Linked DNA regions of Homo sapiens: region 1 is linked to region 2. The links come from fine-mapping of genetic effects on gene expression. A gene starts in region 2. The other region holds a variant in brackets. All regions are shown on one strand. Distances are between the middles of the regions. Region 1 holds the start of DGCR5 (DiGeorge syndrome critical region gene 5). Region 2 holds the start of PRODH (proline dehydrogenase 1).

The links. PIP is the estimated chance that this variant, and not a neighbour inherited with it, causes the effect.
Region 1: its variant is fine-mapped to the expression of PRODH in sun-exposed skin (GTEx, PIP above 0.99). The same link has a PIP of 0.9 or more in tibial nerve and unexposed skin.

The regions. Positions count from the first base shown.
Region 1 is chr22:18,966,883-18,978,904 of GRCh38, forward strand. DGCR5 (DiGeorge syndrome critical region gene 5) reads left to right here and starts at 3,586. Exons shown (of 6, transcript NR_110533.2): 1 at 3,586-3,776. RefSeq lists an enhancer at 2,667-3,498. The variant G/A (reference allele first, on the strand shown) is at 6,007.
Region 2 is chr22:18,930,919-18,940,821 of GRCh38, forward strand. PRODH (proline dehydrogenase 1) reads right to left here and starts at 5,375. Exons shown (of 14, transcript NM_016335.6): 1 at 5,097-5,375; 2 at 72-280. The coding sequence starts at 5,369. LOC122455341 (a long non-coding RNA gene) reads left to right here and starts at 5,505. Exons shown (of 4, transcript NR_173080.2): 1 at 5,505-5,730; 2 at 6,434-6,549; 3 at 8,755-8,831. RefSeq lists a cis regulatory region at 5,357-5,591, a promoter at 5,605-8,819, enhancers at 7,755-8,819, 7,778-8,072, 7,934-8,441 and a silencer at 7,778-8,072.

The DNA of each region.
Region 1 (12,022 bases), 37 kb after region 2:
GCCTTGGGCATGCAGCCACCCTCTGTGGTGAGAGCAGATGGCAGGCTGACGCCCCCCAGCTCCCTGGCACCGGGACCACATCCCTAGCCGCCCACTCAGAGTGCAGGGAAGGGTTGGTCACATTGACACGCTTGGGCAGCAGGCATGTGCTTGCCGCATGACCTTCTAGCTTCCTTCCTGGTCTCTCCTTGCATTGGCCTGGAGTGGCCCAGAATGTGTGGAGCAAAGACCCAATTTCCTTGCTGCCCATCCCTCCCCAGGAGACACCGAGGGCCTGGATGTCCGTGAGAACCGCACAGGCATGCCAAGGAAAGCCATGGCACGCCTATCTCTCCAGGCGGGAGATGAGCCTCCCGAAGCCCTGGGAAGAAGGGACCTTCCAAGGAGGCTGAACCGTGTCCCTGTCAGCCCAAGACGGGCCACTGCGAAAGGTCCCCTCATCTCAAGCTGGCTTCTATGGGCAGGCATGGAGTTTTGAGTGAAAACCCTGCATGATCCTCTCAGGGGACAGGAGGGGTGAACAAAGGAGGGACAGTGACCAGCTGACCAGGCCCTGAGGCATTAGCGTCTGCCTCGTCCACATGCTGTGCAAGCTCAGCGAGGCCAAGGGGCTGGGCCGAGGTCACACAGCTGGGCAGGGCCCTCATGACCGGCATGCTGGTCGTGGAGGCCGAGCCCCAGGTTGGGGGTGGGGGTGGGAGGTGAGGCAGCCCCTGGCCTCACTGGAGGGGGGTGGTGGGCTGGGGAAGCTGGCAAAGGATGTGCCCTACATGGTGGGTGTGAGGTGGGGAACGATTCGGGCAGATGCCCGTGTGGCCCTGCTGACCCAGTCCAGGCAGGGTGTGACAGGTCTGCCCAGCCCTGAGGTCACAGCTGTCTGCAGTCTCCAGCTCACTCCTGATCCCCAGGGCCACGTGTCCAGAAAGCCTGGGAGCTTGCATCAGCTGGGCACAGATGGCCTGTCCTCCCAGCACCCCTGCTGGGGCTTCCTAGGAACTGACTGGTGTAGACTCCGGGCAGCAGACGGCCAGGCTCTGCCCACAGGGTCCCTGGCTCCTCCCATGAGGTGACCCGATAGAACTGGCTGTGCCCCTTGACCAGGGGCTCCAGCCCTTGTCAAGCCCTCCCTGCTAGCCCCTCACCAGCCGTCAGCTGCCCTCCCTCCCTTGCCCGTTGGGCCCTGGGGGGGTGATGGCTCCGCGGTCGCCTGCCCAGAGAGTACACCACTCCCCATGCTGCCCCCCGACCTGGCTACACCCTGAAAAATGTGGCTTACCAAACCCTCCCACATGCACAGCCTGAGAAGCGGGCTGTGCCTTGCTGGTAGCAGACCGACCGGCTGCCTAGCCCTGCTCAACTCTGCCTCTGCACCCCCATAACTCCCTATCAGCGCTGGCCCACACCTAATCGTTCCAGCTAGCACCCAGGAGTGGGCTCAGCTTCCAGTGGGGAGGGCGCTGGCCAAGGTGCTGACCGAGGTGGCGGACACAGGAAACCAGCCGGTCCCCCAGCGCTCCCTCTGTGGGCCTTGGGCCTGCTCCCACTGCACAGACAGGTGGGGAGGTGGAGGCCCAGGTCCCAGCCCAGAGCAGCTGGGAACAGCCGGACTTGATGGCTGGAGAGGGCTGTGGTGCCAGAAGCCTCCAGGTTAGCCCTGGCTCCCCATTTCCCCCCATGCCCATCCCATGCCCCAGAATGGTCACTTTGGCTGCTGCAGGAGGGGTGGGAGGGGCTTTAAACCTATGAGATAGGGTGTGGGGTCACAATCTTCAATTGTAGTGGGCCGCTCTGGGTCACTGGTAATTGAAGAGACGCCTGCATAGTAAGCACGCAAGTGTCCTCTCAAGCCCTCTCTGCAAGCACAGAGCAGCCCGAGACTGGAGCCTGGTCCACCCCAGCGCTGTCCTCAGACTGATGGTCAGTGCCTCATGACTCATCTAGGGTCTGATACATCCCTGTGGTGAGAGCTCAGTTCCTAGTCTAGGGGCTGCTGCGTGCAGGGACCCTGGAGGAAGAATGCTTGTTTAGGGGTCAGGCCTCAGCCTCCCACTGGCTCTGTCAGCTTCGCCTGAGGTTCCCCATCTGTGCAATGGGTGATGACATCTTGGTGTGGCTCTGGGAGGACCTGTTGAGCCACCTCAGGGGCTGAGCTGGTGGCACTCGGCAGCCAGCACCCTCTGGGGAGGTGGCAGTGTGTGCACAGCCCACCCCTTCAGGAGGCCAGGGGACAGAGTGGCTGGGGGTGTCTGGGCCCCACCTCACCTTCTGTGTGGCTGGGAATGGCATGCACTCCACAATGCCCTCATAAGCCTAGGCTGGGACAAGGGTGATAGGGATAAAGCAGGCCAAGGTGATGAGGGCCACAGAGCGGCAGCCAGAGGCATGTGGGCAGTGCAGCCTCCACACCAGGCAGAGGGCCCGGCCAGCATGGCTCCACCCTGGGAAGCTGCCTGCCACTGGGATCAGATGGGAGCACCAGGGCTCTGGGAGGTCCTCACTTCCTCTGGACAAGGCAGGCAGGTCACCAGCCCTGTGCCCTGCTCATCTCCCTCAGGGCCACCTCCATGGCCAGGGGCAGGCAGAGAGCACAGGGCTGCCCAGTCACCAGGTCTCTCTGCTTCATATCAGTGGACCTGGGCTCTGAGGGGAGCCATCAAGACCTCAGGCTGGCCCACTCCGTCCTTGAGTCAGGGTCCTACAGACTGACACCAGGTTGGCCTGCAAGACCCTGGTCCTGTCATGCAGGGTGGGCCTGGGGAGGACCCAGCCCAGCTGAGCTGACTCCCAGCACTCCTCCAGGTGCAGGGACAGCCTGGCAGTTGTCTGAAGACCCCGGGATGGGCTTAGGAGCTCATCATCATCGGATGCCCCCCGAGCAGAAGACGGAGAAGGAACACCCCCACCCTGTGTGGTGTGTGTAGGGGTGTCACTGGGTTCTCTGGCTCCATGACGCCCCCCCGGCCCCGCTGGGGGCTGGCTTAGTAGAGTGGGGGATGATACTAAGCAGGCGGCCTCGGAGAGCGTCTTCTGGGTTTGGAGGCCACATTCCGCAGGAAGGAAGAGGTGGGGGACCCCTGCAGGGTTATGGGTAACATCAGGCCTGGGTCCCCTCCCTGGGGTGGTGCAGAGAGGGCCACAAAGGCCCAAGAGGGCCCCCAGAACGCTCTTAAGCCTTGAGCCTGTTTCTTACTGAAAAATGGGGGCGATCGTGCTCCAGCAAGGGGCTTCTGTGCAGGGGGCGGGGGGGGGCGGGGGGTTCATGGGTTTCGTGAGGCCAGGAAGCGAGTGGGTCGCGCAGAGGCCATCCCCAGGCCTCAATGGCCCCAGCCGCCATCCCCTCCGCCGCCTGCAGGGCCGCCGCCTCTTCAGGAATGCGCGGCTTTGTCTAGGGCCGGGTGGGCTGAGCACCTCCTGCTGCCCGGCCTACGCTCCCCGGCCAGCCGCGCCGCTCACGCCCCAACTTGGGCCCGCGCCCCCCAGCCCCCGCCCAGGCCCGCGCCCCCCAGCCCCCGCCCAGGCAGGCGCCTGCGCCCAGGTGAGGGCCCCGCCCGCCGCCGCCTCCCGCGCCCTGCGCGCCCGCGGCCCGAGCCCCGCCCGAGCCGGGCGGAGCGGAGCGCGCGGAGCCTAGACCCGCTGCCGGGCCGGGGCTGGGCCGGAGCGGCGGCGCCTGGATGCCGGCCCGGGGCTGGGCCGGAGACTGGCGCCCGCCCCGAAGCGACTTTCGGTCCCCGACCCGCTCCGCCTGACCCCTATGATGAAGAGGGCGTCCACTGGAGGTGAGTGTCCACGCGGCGCCAGAGCCCAGCAGGCGGCGGGGCGCAGAGCGGGGTGGTTCGCCCCTCCTCGGAGCCGCAGGGCCCGTCCAGGGCTTCCAAGGCTGGGGAAGCGTAGCCGGGCGGCCGGGAGGGCCACCGCAGTGCCGCGCCAGGCTGGGGCCAAGGGCGCCCCGGCCCCGGGAGGGCGGAGCCGGAGGCAGCAGGAAAAGTTGCCGCTTCCCGGGTAAGTTGACGGCGATGGCGGGGCCGGGGGTGGCGGCCCGGGGGTCCCCGAGGCTGGGCCAGGTCCGGGGTGGGGGCCGCGGGCTGGAAGGACGGGGTCCGGCCTCGGCGCCGCGGCCACGAAGGGGTTAATGAGCGGGTTTTTTTGCAGAAACGCGGGTACCGAGAGTAGGTGGAGGTATCGGGCCGCCTCCGCCCCCGCCTCGCGGACTGGGCTCAGAACCTCCCGTTTTTCTGAGGTCAGGCCTCAGGGGGATCAATGGGGGCGTTGGCGGCAGTAGAGGGCGTGGGGGACAAGGTTGTCCCAACGCTGCCTCCAGGGCGGGCGGTGAGAGGAGGCAGCAATGCCCAGACATCCGCAGCCCGAGGGACATTGAGAGGCTTGGCTGGGGGAATCAGGGGTGGTGGGGCAATCAGCATCCCCTCCCTGGCAGCCTTCGTGAGACTCCCCCGCCCCACTGGGTGTGAGGTCCCGCAGTGGGGGGCAAGGGAGGGTGGGCTCCATGTGAGTTGGGCATGCCCTGCCTGGAGGGTGCTCCCCAGGTGCCCACCCAGGCTGCCCTGCTGATGTCCATGGTGTCGCAGGCTGCACACACGTTTCCTTGCACGTGCACATGTCTACACGGACTGCACACTTGCACACCTCTGGTGCACATGCGTGCCAGCGCCACCCCAGTGTACACATGCACGAACACTGGGTGCACACACGGACTCTGAGGGTGCATATCTGTGTCCTCGCCCCCGCTTGCACGCCCACGGCCACACATGCATGTACGCGACATGCCTGCTGTGGTCTCCACGGGTGGCACATGCTGGGGCCCCTTTCACAATACCCACTCCCGCACCCACATGCTCGTCTGTTGAGTGGGGAGGCCAGGCCCACAGACAGGGGCAAGACATCCTGGGCCCCACCTCTGCCTGCCTGCCTCCGTGTCCTGGGGGTCCCCGCCTCGGGCGTGTGTGCGTGTGTGTAACTTGGTATGCATCTGCACGTGTGTCTGTGCGCGTGATCATGTGTGCCTGCGAGCACATAGGCATATGTCTCTTTGCCTCCAGGGTGTGGGTGCCCCTTGTGTGCCTAGACAGGCTGTGGCCTAATCTGGAGCAGAGGCCCTGGAATGTGTGTTGGGGGCTCATTGAATGCCCCCAGCCCAGGGTGTGAGGGGCAGGGTCTCCCAGCCACTCCGCACCCACCAGGGCTGAGGCAGTGATAGATGATGGTGGGCTGGAACCTGTCTGGTCAGGGAAGACCCATTTCAGGCCATGAGGTCAACACTGTGACCAACAGGCCAGACCCTGGGCACCCTTGGTGGCCGCTGCAGCTTGGCTGACTGGAGCACGTGACCCAGCGTGACTGCAGAGGCCCCGCCTCCAGTACCTCAGTTTCTCCATGGTGAGGACCTTCTTGGTGAGGGGTTCCGTGGTGGGCTCCCCTACCTCCGGTGTTGTGTAGGGTGCTGAGCAGATGGATGCCATGCTGCATGATGGGCAAGGGTGGCCCACTAGCACTGTGGCAAGGGCCCTGGGCTGGGGCTTCAATTGGCAGGCCACACCTCCTGCTCCCCTGGCCACCACCAGAGGCTCATCTATAGAGTGGGGACCAGCAGGTTATCCTTGTAGGTTGTGTGAGGGTGAAACATACTAGCAGAGGGGCAGCTGAAGCAGTGGGGCTGGCCAGTCTCTTTTTCTAAGCCTCAGTCTTCCCATCTATAAAGGGGGTACTGTTCCCTGTTCTTCTCTACTGAGGTGAGGAGGAAGTGAGCTCCCATGCCGGGGGTGGGAATGGGTGGCCATCAGCACCTAGACCCCACCTGGCAGAGGGGCACGTGCAGGGCCTGCCGTGGCAGAACCGTGACCTGGATTTGGGTCCTGGCTCAGCCACCTGCTGGCAGTGTGACCTTGGGTGTGACAGGTCACCTCTCTGCCTCAGTCTTCCTCACCTGCACCATGGGCCAGTGGTCAGGGATTATCGGGGCACTTCCAGGCTGAGGCTGGGCGGAATTGGCCC[G/A]GCTTTCCCTGTGGAGTTCCGACTCTGGTGCTTCTGCCTCAGAATGCCCAGAACACCTCCCCACACCCCAACTCAGCAGAGTCCTCCTGGGACCTTTGCATGGCCAGCTGGCCCCTCACCCCATCCATTTGCAGAAGGGACAATAAAAGCCCCTAGTCAGGCAACTCAGGCCACAGGTGAGTGGAGAGGGGACAGGGCAGGGATGCTGCCCAGCTTGGGAGACCCTCCCATAGTACCTTCACTCCCTCCCTGCCCTCCCCCTGTTCCTCACCTGGGGGTCTGTGGAACCCCTGAGCCTCAGTTTCCCTGTGCCAGGGTCCTTCCACTGGGACTGGCAGAAACGTAGGTTTGCATGGAGTGAGAAGCAGGGGAGAGGTTGAGGGAGGGCCTGGCCCAGCAGGTCTCTGAAAGCCAGAGGGCTTGTGGAGGGTCTATGGAGGACACCCCCACAGGGGCTGGGGCCCTGGAAGGTGGGGGAAGGTCCTGTTGTCCTGGGAGGCTGGGGACTGGCCCACAGCCTGTGGAGGGGCTGGGGTTTGTTTGCTGTTGCTGTGAGTGACAGGCAGGCTGTGAGGGCCAGGGCATGTGGGACCGTGCCCTCCGCCTCCCTCTGCCCAAGGACAGTGCAGCCTTGTAGCACTGCCCTCTCCTCGTCCCTGCCCCAGCCTTGAATTCATGCTTTGTGGCACGGACGGCCCTGTGCAGCCGGTGCAACACCAGGAGGGTCCAGCTGGTGAGGACAGGACGGGTGGGAGGCAGAGGAGCCCTCCTGCTGTCCTGGGCCTGTGGCCCGGAACCTCTCACCGGGAGCCTTGGTCTGTGCACCTGGGAAAGGGGTCAAGAACAGGAAGCATACGGGGAGTTTCAGGATGACCTGGAAATGAACAAATGCATGTGTGAGCCAGGCGCCCTGCCCGGCCCTGGCACAGGGTTAGTGAGGGCTCCCGACGCTTGGCTACTGTCTGATCAATGAGGTTCATGCCGTCCCGCCCCCATTCTGGCAAGCCTGACCTCTGATCCCCAGGCTGGCCTGCCTGACCCTCTGCAGCCACCCAGGGCCTGGGCTTTGGGGTCTGCAGGAGCCGGCCTGGCTGCCTGCTGCCTCTGCAGCTGTGCAGATGCCCTCTCGGGGCCCTCTCTGCACCCCTCAGTGTCCCTGCTCTGCAGCCTGGCTGCACCCAGGCCAAGGTCACAGGCACCCTCCTCGAAGCCAGATCCCAGATGCTGCATTTGCCCCAACTGTCCGTTCACTTTCTCATTTGTTCATTCATTTGCTTGTTCGTTCCTAGCCTGTCAGATTCTCTTCTGAGCCAGGCAAATCAAGGGGTGCAATCCTTGGCATCGTGCATCTCTAGGATTAAATGCTTTAAAGGATAGGAGGTAACAGAGTGGCCCCGGGGAAGCCCGATCGGAGTGGCGGGCATGCTACCCCACCCTGCAAATCTCCCTGCACTGTCCCTGGGGCCCAGCTGGGTTCCCCACACCAGTTGTTCTGTGCTGCCGTTTCTTCTTTTATCGCTGTATTTTAAACACTTTGCACATCGGGAACTATTCTTGTGCATCGTGGGTTTTCTGGTGTGTGTGGAATCCCTTCCTGAGAATGCACCATCATTTATTTATCCAAACCTGCACCGGCCTCCTGCACTGCCTGCAGCCGTGGAGCTGGGCACCGGGAGATGCAGCTCTGCACACCCACCCCACCATGTCCTCAGCTGGCACCCACCAGGTCTAGGGGCTGGTCACGTGCCTCTCCCCTGATGCTTGAGCTGATTTCAGGGGACTCGGCAGCAGGGCCAGATCCCGCCCCTCCTAGCCAGCTGAGGCCTTTGACAACCGTGGGCTGGCCGGGTGGGTGATGGTGAGTGAGTAGAGTCTGGGCATCCATTTGTGCAGTGGGTGCCTTGGGGCCGCCTCTCCTCTCCCTCTTTCACACAGCCTCTGGTCTTGCCCGCTATGGCCTGCGGGGCCTCTTCTGCGGGGCAGCAGGGCAGCGGGGCATGGGGTAATGCTGACACTGTTCTGCAGCTGTGTCCTGTCCAATGGAGGCAACCCACGGCAGCCAGACCAGGAGGTGGAGAAGAAAGGCAGGGCTGTTGGCACACCTCGAGAGTGGCCTTAGGAGAGGCTGAGTGGGCACAGGCCAGGGTCCCCATGTAGTTCTACACAGGCCTGGCAGGCGGTAAGCCCCATTCAGGGCCCTGGCACATGGAGCCGGGCTGATCTGGGAGTGAAGTGTCAGGTGCTGACCCAGCCTCACTCAGAGCAGCCTGCCCTGGGCCCCCGGGTGCCTCTTGGCTCTCCAGTCGGCACCCTGGCATTCTTAGCTGGCTGTCACGGGTCACGGTCCATGGAGTTGAAATTCTTTGGAATGTTGGGGGTATCACATAAGGGCTTTGTGGTCAAATGTGGGACCTGCTGGAATAAATGGTGCTGATGGTGCTCCTTTCCCGCAGGGCATCTTGGGCTCTGTTTTGGAGAGGGGTGGGCAGCACCTTCTCTGAGAGGCACCCCTATGCGATGTACCTCAGGGCCTGGTGTGCCCAGGAACCTGTTTTGGGAAACAGTGGTTGAAGTGCCTCGGAGGACCAGAGGAGACCTGTGGGCCTCCAGCAAGTGCCCCAGGATGGGTAGACCCTGCCACACAAACCCCGCACCCACGGGGCGCCCAGTGGGTGGAGGGACCACTGCTTCCCCCAGCAGTTTGAGGCGATGTGCAAATTTAACCTTTGGATTTATGACTCAATTTCTTTGTAGCAAATGTCACGGGAAATGTCAGGCCAAGGCTGAGGCTGGGTGAGGGGCCCGTCGAGGAAGCGGGTAGGGCTAGGCAGGCTAGAGTACCGAGGAGGGGCTCAGGCCAGGGTGGGCTTCAGGCCCCTCACCTCCTCCTGGGAGCCTTCCTGGATTGTCCCTTGCTTGCCTGGATCCCCGGCACTGTGTCCTCAATTTGTCCCAGCTATCACAACCTTGTTGAGATGTTGCCTTTATTTGCCTTCTACCAGGGCCCAGATGAGGCCAGCTCGGGGACATGCCAGAAGTCCCCCATTCCCCAAGGCTGGGCAGCCATGGGATCAGCTTGTGCAGTGCCGGCTTGCTGTATGACCTTGGGCAGCTCCACCCTTCCTGGTCACCGTAGGCCTCTCTGCAGTCCACAGCTGGTGGCCAGAGGTGGTGTTCCCAGCTCAGTGCCTTCAAGAGTGGGAAAACGCCTAGAGTCCTCAGTATGTGGGGTGTGGGGCTCTGGAGGAAGTGGGTGGGGGCTGAATGCAGGGCTGGGGTTGCGGAGGGCTGGCCCTTGGTGGTCCCAGGGGCTAGAGCAGCCCCTGCACACAGCAGGTGCTCAGTAAAGACCAAAAGGCAGTGCGTGGATGTGGAAGGTGGAGGTGGATTCCAGCTGGGAGTCCACAGTCCCCAGTTACATGTCCCCCCTCCACCGCCACATGCCAGATGTCATTCCAAGGCCCCACGCTGGCCCGTCACCAGCTCTGCCCTGCCTCCCAGGCCCGGGCGGGTCAGGGAATGGTGACTGCCTCCTCCCTGCCGTGTGCCAGGCCTGTGCACTGGAGCAGGGGTTCAGGCTCCCTAGTGCTCTGCATCTCTCCTGCACACACAGCTCCCCACACTGCACACCTTAGGCCTCCAGATCCAGCCTGTCTGCTAGTGTCACATCCTCCGTACCCAATGTCCAAGCCCAGAGTCTCAGCCTCTTCCCTCGACCCATCCCCAAAAGCAAAATCAGTGTCAAACCTGCACCCTGTCTCCCGGTCCATCCCCTTTACTCCTCACTGAGGACCAGCCTCAGACCTGGCCTCTGTCCCCAGCCTGTGGCCACAGCTGGCCCCTGCAACCTCCCTGCCTCCTGGGTTCAAGCGATTCTCCTGCCTCAGCCTCCTGAGTAGCTGGGATTACAGGTGCCCACCACCAAGCTAATTTTTTTGTATTTTTAGTAGAGATGGGGTTTCACCATGTTGGCCAGGCTGGTCTTGAACTCTTGACCCCAAGTGATCCACCCACCTCAACCTCCCAGAGTGCTGGGATTACAAGCGTGAGCCACCGTGCCTGGCCTCTGAAGGACACTTTCAAGAGAATACACAAACAACAAATCAGGAGAAACTATTTGCAAATCATATATCTGGTAAAAGACTTATATCCTAAATATACAAATAATAACTCTCAAAACTCAATAATAAGAAAAAAACCTATTCACAAATTGGGCAAAATAATTGAACAGATGGTTCACCAAAGAAGACATTTTGTCAGCAAACAGGCACCTGAATAGATGCTCCACATCTTTAGTCATTATGGAAATGCAAAATAGAACCTCAGTGAGATAATATTTCACACCCACTAGGATGGCTGTAATTTAAAACAGAAAATATCAAGTGTTAGGAAGGATGTGGAGGAACTGGAACTCTCATACGCTGTTGGTGGGAATATAACATGATGCAACCACTTTGGAAAATAGTTTGGTAGTTTCTTAAAGAGTTAAATATGAACCTACCATATGACAGTCATTCCCCTCCTAGGTATTTACCCAAGATAAGTGGAAGCATTTGTCCAGACAAAGATTTGTATACAAAGGTTTATAGCAGCTTTATTCGTATAAGCAAAAACTGGAAATGACCCAGAAGTCTGTCCACATGTGAATGGATAAACAGGCTATGTGATATCAATACAGTGGAATTGACTTTTGACACATGCAACGTGGATGTGTATCATGGATGAATATCAAAGGATTTTAGACATGGATAAATATCAGAATGATTATGCTGAGTGAAAGAAGTCAGACAAAAAGGAGTACATACTGTATGTTTCTGTTTAGATTAAATTCCACAAGATGTAAACTAATCTACAGTGACAATATAGAAGAATGGTTGCCCGGGGCAGGGAAGGGCACGGGGAACCTTTTGGGGGTAACCACCTCAACTGTGGTCAGAGGTTCACAGGTACAAACATGTCAAAAGGTACCAAATTATACGTTTTAAATGGGTGCAATTTATGTCAATTACACCTCAACAGAGAAAAATACAATGCTTATTTTATGCAAAGGGTTATTTTGTAAAACTCTTTTGAGGAGGACCGTCCTGGTCAGCGGCCCTCACCATCGAGACTCTCCCTGCACATGGGTGCTGTGGTGACTCGGCCCCTGGGCTCACCCTCTGGTGCTGTGTGCACCTCAAGAGCAGGATGGAAAGGTCCCCTCCCCACAGCCTGGCTGTCAGACCCCCGGCACAGAGGTGCACCGTGCAGCCTCCCGTCATTTCCCATTTGCCTGCCCAAGCTCTCAGTGTCTGAGCTCTGTCCTCTTTCTGGAAGACAGCCAGGTTTAGTGTTGGGAGCAGGAGACCAGCATGGGCTAGCCCAGTCCCACCACCTGAACAGAGGGGCTGTGATCCTCCAAGCTACCCAGGGAAGGTGCCACCTGGGTGCACAGCTGGTCCCAATGGTCAGGCCTCCCCTTGACAGAGGGGCAGGGCCGTGTCATGGTCAGGGCCTGTGCTCTAAAGCCAGACTGAGGGTCAAAACCCAGCTGCCCCATTTACAAGCTTCACGGTCTCAGGAGTGTCACTCTGCACATCAGTTTCCTCATCTGTAAAACCGATCAGTGACATCTGCCTGGTTACCTGCTGGGGCAAGTGGGTGAGTTGAGTCCGATGAAGCACTTAGAACGGTGCCTGGTATGTGGCAGTGTACAGAGCATGGGGCAATCACTGCAGCCGACCTAGCTGGTGGCTCCAGTGGGCCTTAGTGCCCCAGGCATCTGAGGAGCCCACTCTTCAGCACTGCCCCCGAGTGGCTGCAGCACACACTCCCCCAGGACTCATTCAGCCCTCCCAAGGAGTGGGAAGCCTCCGGAACCTGGTGCTGTCCGAGGCACGACACGCAGGAAGCAGGGCAGGTGTCCTCCCTGGCCCCTCACCCTTCCTAGCCAGGCTGCAGCTGATCCGAGGTGGTTCCTTGATCCTGGAGTCTGAAGGGACATTGAGGGGCTACCTGTGCTCCAAACAGACCAGCC
Region 2 (9,903 bases):
CATCCCACCTGCTCCCACTGGGTGCTCCAGGGTCATGATCAGAAAGCCCGCAGACACCGGGCAGGCCTTACTCCATCTCCTTGTGCTCTGCCTCCTCGGGGCTCAGGTCCTCCTCCACTCCATAGTCCAGGATGGCGCTGACACCGAAGGCCCTGTAGTGCCGAAGCAGGGGCTGGATGGACTCCTGGTCCTCCCCGGCTACAAAATGCCCATAGAAGGTCATCTTCATGAGCTTGTTGAATAGCCTCTGTCCTAGAAGTTTCCTGGAAACATACAGCAGCTGAAAGGCAAAGGGAAGCCGCTGTCCTGGGCTGCCTGAACTCTCCTTTCCCAGCAAGGCACCGCTGCTCATCCCCGACCACACTTCACCCCAGCCATGGGGCCTCGATATGGTCTCTTGGCGACTGGGCTTTCAGGGTCAGTTTCATGGTGAAGACCAGCTAAAGCCGCTTGCTTCTCCACCCTGTCCATCACTCCAGTTCCCATCCAGGGCAGAGAGACCACAGGAGGTGCTGCCTGCTTGGCCTGAGGACACTGTTCCCACCTGGACTCTGCCCCTTCAGGGCCCCACCCATGAGTCACTCCAGCAGCACACAGTGGGTGCCTGACCACTGCTTGGTGGATAAAAAGGAGAATGGCCAGCCTCCCTGGGGATGACAGCCGGCATTTTGAGACCATCCTCTGTATCCACACCTTGGTAGTTCTGCTGCGGAAGAGGAGGATCTAACTTGACTTTCTAGTACTTGAGTGCCCAGATTTTTCAATGTTTTGTTCCCTCTTATCCCAAGTCCCTTAAACAGTGTGACTGGCATGAGGCCAGCCCCCGAATGGATGCTAAATAACAAACGTGTGAAACTCAGGCTGAGTCTGCGCCCAGCTGGAGGGAGGCATGCCCTGGCAACAAGGACAATGAGCTAGATGACAGTCCACAGGGGCCTGTGAGATGACTCCCACCCCAGGACCCATGCGCTCTGCAGGGTCATCTGGGGCTGACCAGCCACTCTGACAGATGCTGCCCGGGAACTGTCTGTCTCCTCCAATCATATTTCACCACGTCGCTCATTCAGATGTCCCAAGCTGCCATGCACCAAGCACCTTTTATAGACTGGAAACAACCAAAGGAAACCGACCAGGATCTCACATCCTGGTGGTAAAGGAACCCCAAAGGGGAAGGAGGGACTCTGCCTATGACTCAGGACAGGGGGATGGGGCAGTGCCTGCAGGGTAGGGCAGGGGTGTTTACTAACCCAGATCCAGGAGTGGGGCTTGCCAAGGCGAGGAGATGGCATGGACAACTGTGGGAGCTCCAGCACGGGGGACAGCCAGGGCAGAAAGGACAGGGACAACGAGAGGCTACTTGGAGAGGAGGGCCGAGTGTGATGCTCAGAAGCACACCTCCGCGTTGTGTCTGCTGCCCCTGCCGACTCAGCCCCAACACAGGAAGAGCCTGGGGTTTCTCAAACCCAATGGATACTAGAACTCCTTTTATGTGGGGAGCATCTCTTGAGACCGTAGTTTCAGGAACAACTTCTAGTCTAAGCAAAACCATTAGCGAGTCAAACACTTACACCCAAGCCAGCCCTGAGCACCCACACGCCTGCCCACAGGCAGACATAGCCCCACAGCCTTACCCTGAACATTGGTGCCCCATGGAGACGCCTCCTGACCATCACCCCTGGGCACGCCATGGGGCAGCCCCAAGGACCAGGGTTTCCCAGGCACTCACCCCTGCCTTCCTGCAGCCTCCAAGCAGAATCTGACTTTAAGGCATTTTGTTCTTTTATCAAGAGGATTAGAAACTGGAAAATGAACAGGCTGACATGTTCTCCGTCTCCCACTGAGCCTGAGCCAGGCCTCATTCCTGCTGGCAGCACCCAGGGATAGTTGGGAGAACAGGATGGGTCTGAAACATATCAAAGATCACCCAAGTGGCAGGCGGGGCAGAACTGGGGACCTGAACACCATCACTGGGCTTATCCACATCCGCTCTGAGAGAACCATCAGAAAACAACAGGAGGGAGGGTGGGCAACTGTCGACTGCCGCACGGGGCCACGCAGTCTCCCTCTACCTAACTGCTCGCCTCCGCACGGCCAGCACTAAATGAAGGGGCGGGAGCCCAGGCTGCACTGACTCCAGGGATGCTTATTCACAAAGATGGGGGGCTGGGGGACTGGGCCCGGGCTGAGGGTGGAAGCTCCCTGCACAGGGCTGCAGAAGCACACAGGCAGGGCTGGCAAGTTTTTTATTTATTTATTTTTAGAGGCAGGGTCTCACTCCTGGGCTCAAGCGACACTCCTATCTCGGCCTCCAGAGTAGTTGGGACTACAGGCATGCACCACCACACTCAGCTAACTTTTATTTTTTCTTTTTTTTGAGGCAGAGTTTTGCTCTTGTTGCCCAGGCTGGAGTGCAGTAGCACAATCTCGGCTCACTGCAACCTCCACCTCCCAGGTTCAAGCGATTCTCCCGCCTCAGCCTCCCAAGTAGCAGAGATTACAGGCGCACACCACCATGCCCAGCTAATTTTTATATTTTTAGTAGAGATGGGGTTTCTCCATGTTGGCCAGGCTGGTCTCAAACTCCTGACTTCAGGTGATCCACCCGCCTCGGCCACCCAAAGTGCTGGGATGACAGGCATGAGCCACCGCACCTGGCCCCAGCTAACTTTTAAAAATATTTTGTAGAGACAGGGTTTCACGATGTTGCTCAGGCTGGTCTTGAACTCCTAGCCTTAAATGATCCTCCTGCCTTGACCTCCTTAAGTGCTAGAATTACAGGCATGAGCCACCATGCCTAGGCATGAGCCTAGGGCTTGTAATTTTAAAGCTGACTCCACAGCAAAGCAACCACTTTAACACCATCCTGGTGTCACTGATGTCCCCGCATGGCACTACCTGAGACCAGGGCAGCCCCACATCTTCTTCAGGTGAGGAGATCCTTCGAGGATTTAGAAACCTGCACCAGTAACACATACACTTGTACCCCCTGTGAAAGACTCAACCAAATGTGTGCAGAGTAACACTGGTAGAGCCGGTTCTCTCCCCTCCCCCCACTCAGGGAACCACTGTCACCACGGGTCCTGTCCCTTCTGTGAGGGCGCACACCCAACCTCAGTGCTGTTGTCATGGAAATCCTGGGACTTTCCTAAACCCTCCTCAATAAGTCTGGCTTTCAGGCAAGGGCGGGCCCCACTGCTGTCCCCATCCAAGGCAGCAGCTCAAAGATCAGCTACTACAACCTGACACGCCTGTGGCAGATGTGGCCTCACTGCCCGGGTGCCTCACAGACCTGTGCTGGCTCAGCAGAAGGAATCTCCCCACAGCCCAGAGGGTGAGGGAAGGAACTCCCCTCTGGCCCGCTCACAGGACCAGGTTCTAGTGAGCAGCTCACAAGCCCAGGACCTGGCCTCTGCCTTCTTCCAGTGCTGAGGCTGCCGACACCCATGGGACCACTAGCAAGACAACAGTACAGACCCCACTGAGGGACTTCCCAGGGCACAGGTGGGACCCTAGGGGAGCCTGGGAGAGGTCACCTCTGGATGCCCTGCCTCTTCCAGGTACTCACAGCACCATCCCTGAGCCCTGGCACTTGCCTCAAGAAGGCACCCAAGGGACAGCGGAGCCAACAGTTTCCTCCCACAGTCACGGAACAGCACCTGGCATTCCCCGCAGCAGACTGGGCACCAAACCCCACACCCAGCTCTGCTGGCTTCTCTGTGCAACAACTTGTCTTGAATCTAGACAAGAAACCTTAGGGCTGTGCCTACAGAAACCTGACCTGGTGCCTTCCTAGCCCCCTCCCCATCCCAGCCATGCTTAGGGCTGTGCCTACAGAAACCTGACCTGGTGCCTTCCTAGTCCCCACTCCATCCCGGCCACAAGGTGGGCATGGCTTCTGCACGACTGGCCCCAGCTGCCACCTAGCATGCCCGTCCTTGCCCTGGGCAGGGACCTGTGGCTGGCCACTCCCTCCCCTGGCATTTCTGCCCTGCTGCCTCCTCCTCCTATTGCAGCACCACCAGCACTGGCTCCTCTTTTGGGATGCCCCTTAGATGTGGGCACTCCCCAAAGCCTCCACATCGCCGTCCCTCACCTTGCCAGTTCCTCTACCTGGGATGTCCCTTCTCGCCCTCCTGTCTCCTTGGCCGGGGCTCTCTATGACCAAAACTTGACCTTAAGACATCCTTGTGTGCACACACAGCAATGCCCTCCCAGAGCCCTCCATCTGTCCAGTTCAGCTCCTTCTTCCTCCACCATCCTCCGCACTCCCGCCACCACGGGTCCTAGGCTGACCTTGGCGCTCCCCATGGGATTCGGGCCAACAGCATCTGACTCTGAGTTCGTGGATCCCTGCCCTCACCTCGCACCCGCCGAGGCCTCACCTAAGCTCAACTGTGGCTCGGTGCTTCTCATCTGACACCGTCCCCCGCCTTCCCCCGCCTCCTGTTGAGGCCAGGGGTGCAGCCCCCGACCTCTGTACAGTCTCACCTGAGAAATCAACACCACCAGATACCCTGGCGCCAAAAAGCGGAACCTTGCAAACTCTTCCCAGGGTCACCTGGAGATAACCGTCATCTCTAGTACCCCTAGGCTGATGCGGCTAAAACAGTGTTCTGCTTGTTGCCCCCCACCACCGCCACCAAAAGCCCTGACACTTTTTAAAGCTACCATGGGTGAGTTCAAAGCTGGGCGTTTGAGGGGCTTCCCATTTTTCCCCAACAGTGTTCTCAGAGTGGCCGTGTCTGGGAAGCTGCTGGGTCCCGGGGTTTGAATTCCGGGGTTCCAGGCTATGAGCCCTACACCAGGATTCTCTTGTCTCAACATGAAGAATACTCCATTTTAAATTCCAAGTGATAACTCTGTATTCCCACAAGTGGTATATATCGTAAATATGAAAACGACCATTGTTTTTAGTTGGTAGACATCGACAAATAGGAAAATTTGCGAGGTCCGAGAGGGACTGCAGGAAACGCCTCCCTTCCTGGCTTCCCTTGCTCCAGGAGATGCTTGGGAGGCACCCGTTTCAGGCCAGGAAGCTCCGTAAAGGCTCCCGGGACCGGCAGAAGCCCCCGCGCCCCCGCCTGCACCCCGCGCACCTGCTCGTGGCGCGCCAGCAGCGCGGGCCAGGCGCACAAGCGCAGCACCAGCAGGCTCCGCGCCAGCTCCCAGGTTCGCCGGCTGCGGTACGCCTCCTGCGCGTTGCCGAAGTCCACGGCGGGCACCGGCGGCCGCACTGCCGTGGCCGACCCACCTCCTGGCACGGCCGCTGGGCCCGCTGCGGGCTGCTCGCGGGAGGCCGGCGCCGTGGACAGCGGGACGAAGCGGGGAATGCAGGGGCGCAGCGCGGGCAGGGCGCGCCTCAGAGCCATGGCGGGACGGCGGTACCCGCCCGGGCCGCTTAAGTGTGCGCTGTTGGTCCCGCCCCGCCCCGCCCCGCCCCGCCCCGCCCCGCTCGGTCCCAGAGGCCTCACCCTATATTCCTGACAAATGCCAGACAAGGGCTTAGACTTCACAAGCACCCTGGCACTTCAGCTGCATGGTGGGGACCCTCTGCCGGCAGGGCTGAGGCCAAGGCCCACTGGCTTCTCAAAGCCTCTGCTCCTGCTCTCCGTGAAGACAGCAACAGAGTGAGACCCTGTCTCAAAACAAAAATTATGTATTTTCAGATAGCTTGAAGGAGAATATTGAGTGTTCGTAATGCAAAGAAATAATAAATGTTTGAGATGATAGGTATGCTAATTACCCTTATCTGATCACTATACACGTACAGAAACATCACTACGTACCCCACAAATATGTACAATTATTATGTGTCAACTAAAAAATAAAAATAGCCGGGTGTGGTGGCTCACGCCTGTAATCTCAGCACTTTGGGAGGCCGAGGCAGGAGGATCTTTTGAGCCCAGGAGTGCCAGAGCAGTCTGGGCAACATAGTAAGACCTCGTCTCTACAAAAAATAGAAAATTAACCAGGCATAGTGTTGCATGTCTGTAATCCCAGCTACTCAGGAGGCTGAGGTGAGGGGATTGCTTGAGCCCAGGAGGTTGAAGCTGCAGTGAGCTGATTGTGCCACTGAACTCCAGCCTGGGCAATGGAGGGAGACCCTGTCTCAAAAATAAAAGTGAATTTTTTTTTTTTGAGATGGAGTCTTGCTCTGTCTCCCAGGCTGGAGTGCAGTGGCATGATCTCAGCTCACTGCAACCTCTGCCTCCCGGGTTCACGCCATTCTCCCACCTCAGCCTCCAGAGTAGCTGGGACTACAGGCGCCTGCCAAGCCTGGCTAATTTTTTATGTTTTTAGTAGAGACGGGGTTTCACCGTGTTAGCCAGGATGGTCTTGATCTCCTGACCTTGTGATCCGCCCGCCTCCGCCTCCCAGAGTGCTGGGATTACAGGCGTGAGCCACCACGCCCGGTGAATTTTTTTTTTTAAAGAAAGATTCCGGACACAAACGGCCACAAGTTGTATGGTTCGTTTTATATGAAGAGTTCAGAATAGACAAATCGATAGAGACAGAAGTCACACGAAGACAAGCCCATAGTGGAGCCTGGTGAGTATGGCACTGGCAGTGGTGCCTGGAGGTGGAGGACGGGAGGAGTGGGAGGGGCTGCCAAGGCCCACGGAGTTTCTTTGGGGTCCGGAAATACTCTGGGGCTAGAGAGTGGTGATGTTTGCTCAACCTTGTGTATAGACTAAAAAACCATTCAATATCTCAATAAAGCTGTTATATTTTTTTAAAAAAGCAAAGTTCTAGCATTTGCTTCAAGGAAGCCTGTGGCCCTGCACAGAGGCAAAGGTGGGCAGGGGCTGCCAGGGGCAGGGCTGCAGAGAGGGCAGGGGGAGAAGCGAGGGGTGCAGGGATCACAGAGATCACCACTCACGTCCAGACCATAGCAGAGCAGGCCTAGCGCTGGGTGCCCAGGCCCACGGGAGAGCCCACCTGTGAGGGCACCTGTGGGAACAAGGCTGGCCTGAAAGTCACTGGCTCCATGTGACAATCAATGAAACAACCGAGTTTCACAGGAGCTCTGTAAATCCTAGGAAGCAGGTCTTAGGCTCAGCTGGGGACCCTTGGCAGGTGGCTACCCTGAGCCAGCTGATGGCTTTTTTTTTTTTTTTTTTTAAGAGACAGGGTCTCTCTCTGTTGCCCAAGCTGGAGTGCAGCCATGTGATCACAGCTCACTGTGGCCTTGAACTCCTGGTGTCTCATGTGTCCCTGTGAAGGGACCACCAACCAGCTTTGTATGAGCAACAAGGCTGTTTATTTCACCTGGGTGCAGGCAGGCTGAGTCCAAAAAAGGAGTCAGCAAAGGGTGGTGGGATTATCATTAGTTCTTACAGGTTTTGGGATAGGCAGTGGAGTTAAGAGCAATGTTCTGGGGGCAGGGGTGGATCTCACAAAGTACCTTCTCAAGGGTGGGGAGAATTACCAAGAACCTTCTTAAGGGTGGGGGAGATTATGAAGTACATTGATCAGTTAGGGTGGGGCAGAAACAAATCACAATGGTGGAATGTCATCAGTTAAGGCTATTTTCACTTCTTCTGTGGATCTTCAGTTGCTTCAGCCCATCTGGATGTATCCGTGCAGGTCACAAGGGATATGATGGCTTAGCTTGGGCTCAGAGGCCTGACACCTGGGCTCAAGTGATCCCCCTGCCTCAACCTCCCAAGTAGCTGGGACTACAGGCTGGACTGCACCTAGCTAATTTTTAAAAAATATTTTTTTGTGGAGACAGGGTCTGGCTGTGTTACCCAGTGTGGGGAAAAGCAAGAGAGATCAGATTGTTACTGTGTCTGTGTAGAAAGAAGTAGACATAGGAGACTCCATTTTGTTATGTGCTAAGAAAAATTCTTCTGCCTTGAGATTCTGTTAATCTATAACCTTACCCCCAACCCCGTGCTCTCTGAAACGTGTGCTGTGTCAACTCAGAGTTAAATGGATTAAGGGCGGTGCAGGATGTGCTTTGTTAAGCAGATGCTTGAAGGCAGCCTGCTCCTTAAGAGTCATCACCACTCCCTAATCTCAAGTACCCAGGGACACAAAAACTGCGGAAGGCCGCAGGGACCTCTGCCTAGGAAAGCCAGGTATTGTCCAAGGTTTCTCCCCATGTGATAGTCTGAAATATGGCCTCGTGGGAAGGGAAAGACCTGACCGTCCCCCAGCCCGACACCCGTAAAGGGTCTGTGCTGAGGAGAATTAGTAAAAGAGGAAGGAATGCCTCTTGCAGTTGAGACAAGAGGAAGGCATCTGTCTCCTGCCTGTCCCTGGGCAATGGAATGTCTCGGTATAAAACCCGATTGTATGCTCCATCTACTGAGATAGGGAAAAACCGCCTTAGGGCTGGAGGTGGGACCTGCGGGCAGCAATACTGCTTTGTAAAGCATTGAGATGTTTATGTGTATGCATATCTAAAAGCACAGCACTTAATCCTTTACATTGTCTATGATGCAAAGACCTTTGTTCACGTGTTTGTCTGCTGACCCTCTCCCCACAATTGTCTTGTGACCCTGACACATCCCCCTCTTCGAGAAACACCCACAAATGATGAATAAATACTAAGGGAACTCAGAGGCTGGCGGGATCCTCCATATGCTGAACGCTGGTTCCCCGGTTCCCCTTATTTCTTTCTCTATACTTTGTCTCTGTGTCTTTTTCTTTTCCAAATCTCTCGTCCCACCTTACGAGAAACACCCACAGGTGTGTAGGGGCAACCCACCCCTACATCTGGTGCCCAACATGGAGGCTTTTCTCTAGGGTGAAGGTACGCTCGAGCGTGGTCATTGAGGACAAGTCGACGAGAGATCCCGAGTACGTCTACAGTCAGCCTTACGGTAAGCTTGTGCGCTCGGAAGAAGCTAGGGTGATAATGGGGCAAACTAAAAGTAAAATTAAAAGTAAATATGCCTCTTATCTCAGCTTTATTAAAATTCTTTTAAAAAGAGGGGGAGTTAAAGTATCTACAAAAAATCTAATCAAGCTATTTCAAATAATAGAACAATTTTGCCCATGGTTTCCAGAACAAGGAACTTTAGATCTAAAAGATTGGAAAAGAATTGGTAAGGAACTAAAACAAGCAGGTAGGAAGGGTAATATCATTCCACTTACAGTATGGAATGATTGGGCCATTATTAAAGCAGCTTTAGAACCATTTCAAACAGAAGAAGATAGCGTTTCAGTTTCTGATGCCCCTGGAAGCTGTTTAATAGATTGTAATGAAAAGACAAGGAAAAAATCCCAGAAAGAAACGGAAAGTTTACATTGCGAATATGTAGCAGAGCCGGTAATGGCTCAGTCAACGCAAAATGTTGACTATAATCAATTACAGGAGGTGATATATCCTGAAACGTTAAAATTAGAAGGAAAAGGTCCAGAATTAGTGGGGCCATCAGAGTCTAAACCACGAGGGACAAGTCCTCTTCCAGCAGGTCAGGTGCCCGTAACATTACAACCTCAAAAGCAGGTTAAAGAAAATAAGACCCAACCGCCAGTAGCCTATCAATACTGGCCTCCGGCTGAACTTCAGTATCGGCCACCCCCAGAAAGTCAGTATGGATATCCAGGAATGCCCCCAGCACCACAGGGCAGGGCGCCATACCCTCAGCCGCCCACTAGGAGACTTAATCCTACGGCACCACCTAGTAGACAGGGTAGTGAATTACATGAAATTATTGATAAATCAAGAAAGGAAGGAGATACTGAGGCATGGCAATTCCCAGTAACGTTAGAACCGATGCCACCTGGAGAAGGAGCCCAAGAGGGAGAGCCTCCCACAGTTGAGGCCAGATACAAGTCTTTTTCGATAAAAATGCTAAAAGATATGAAAGAGGGAGTAAAACAGTATGGACCCAACTCCCCTTATATGAGGACATTATTAGATTCCATTGCTTATGGACATAGACTCAT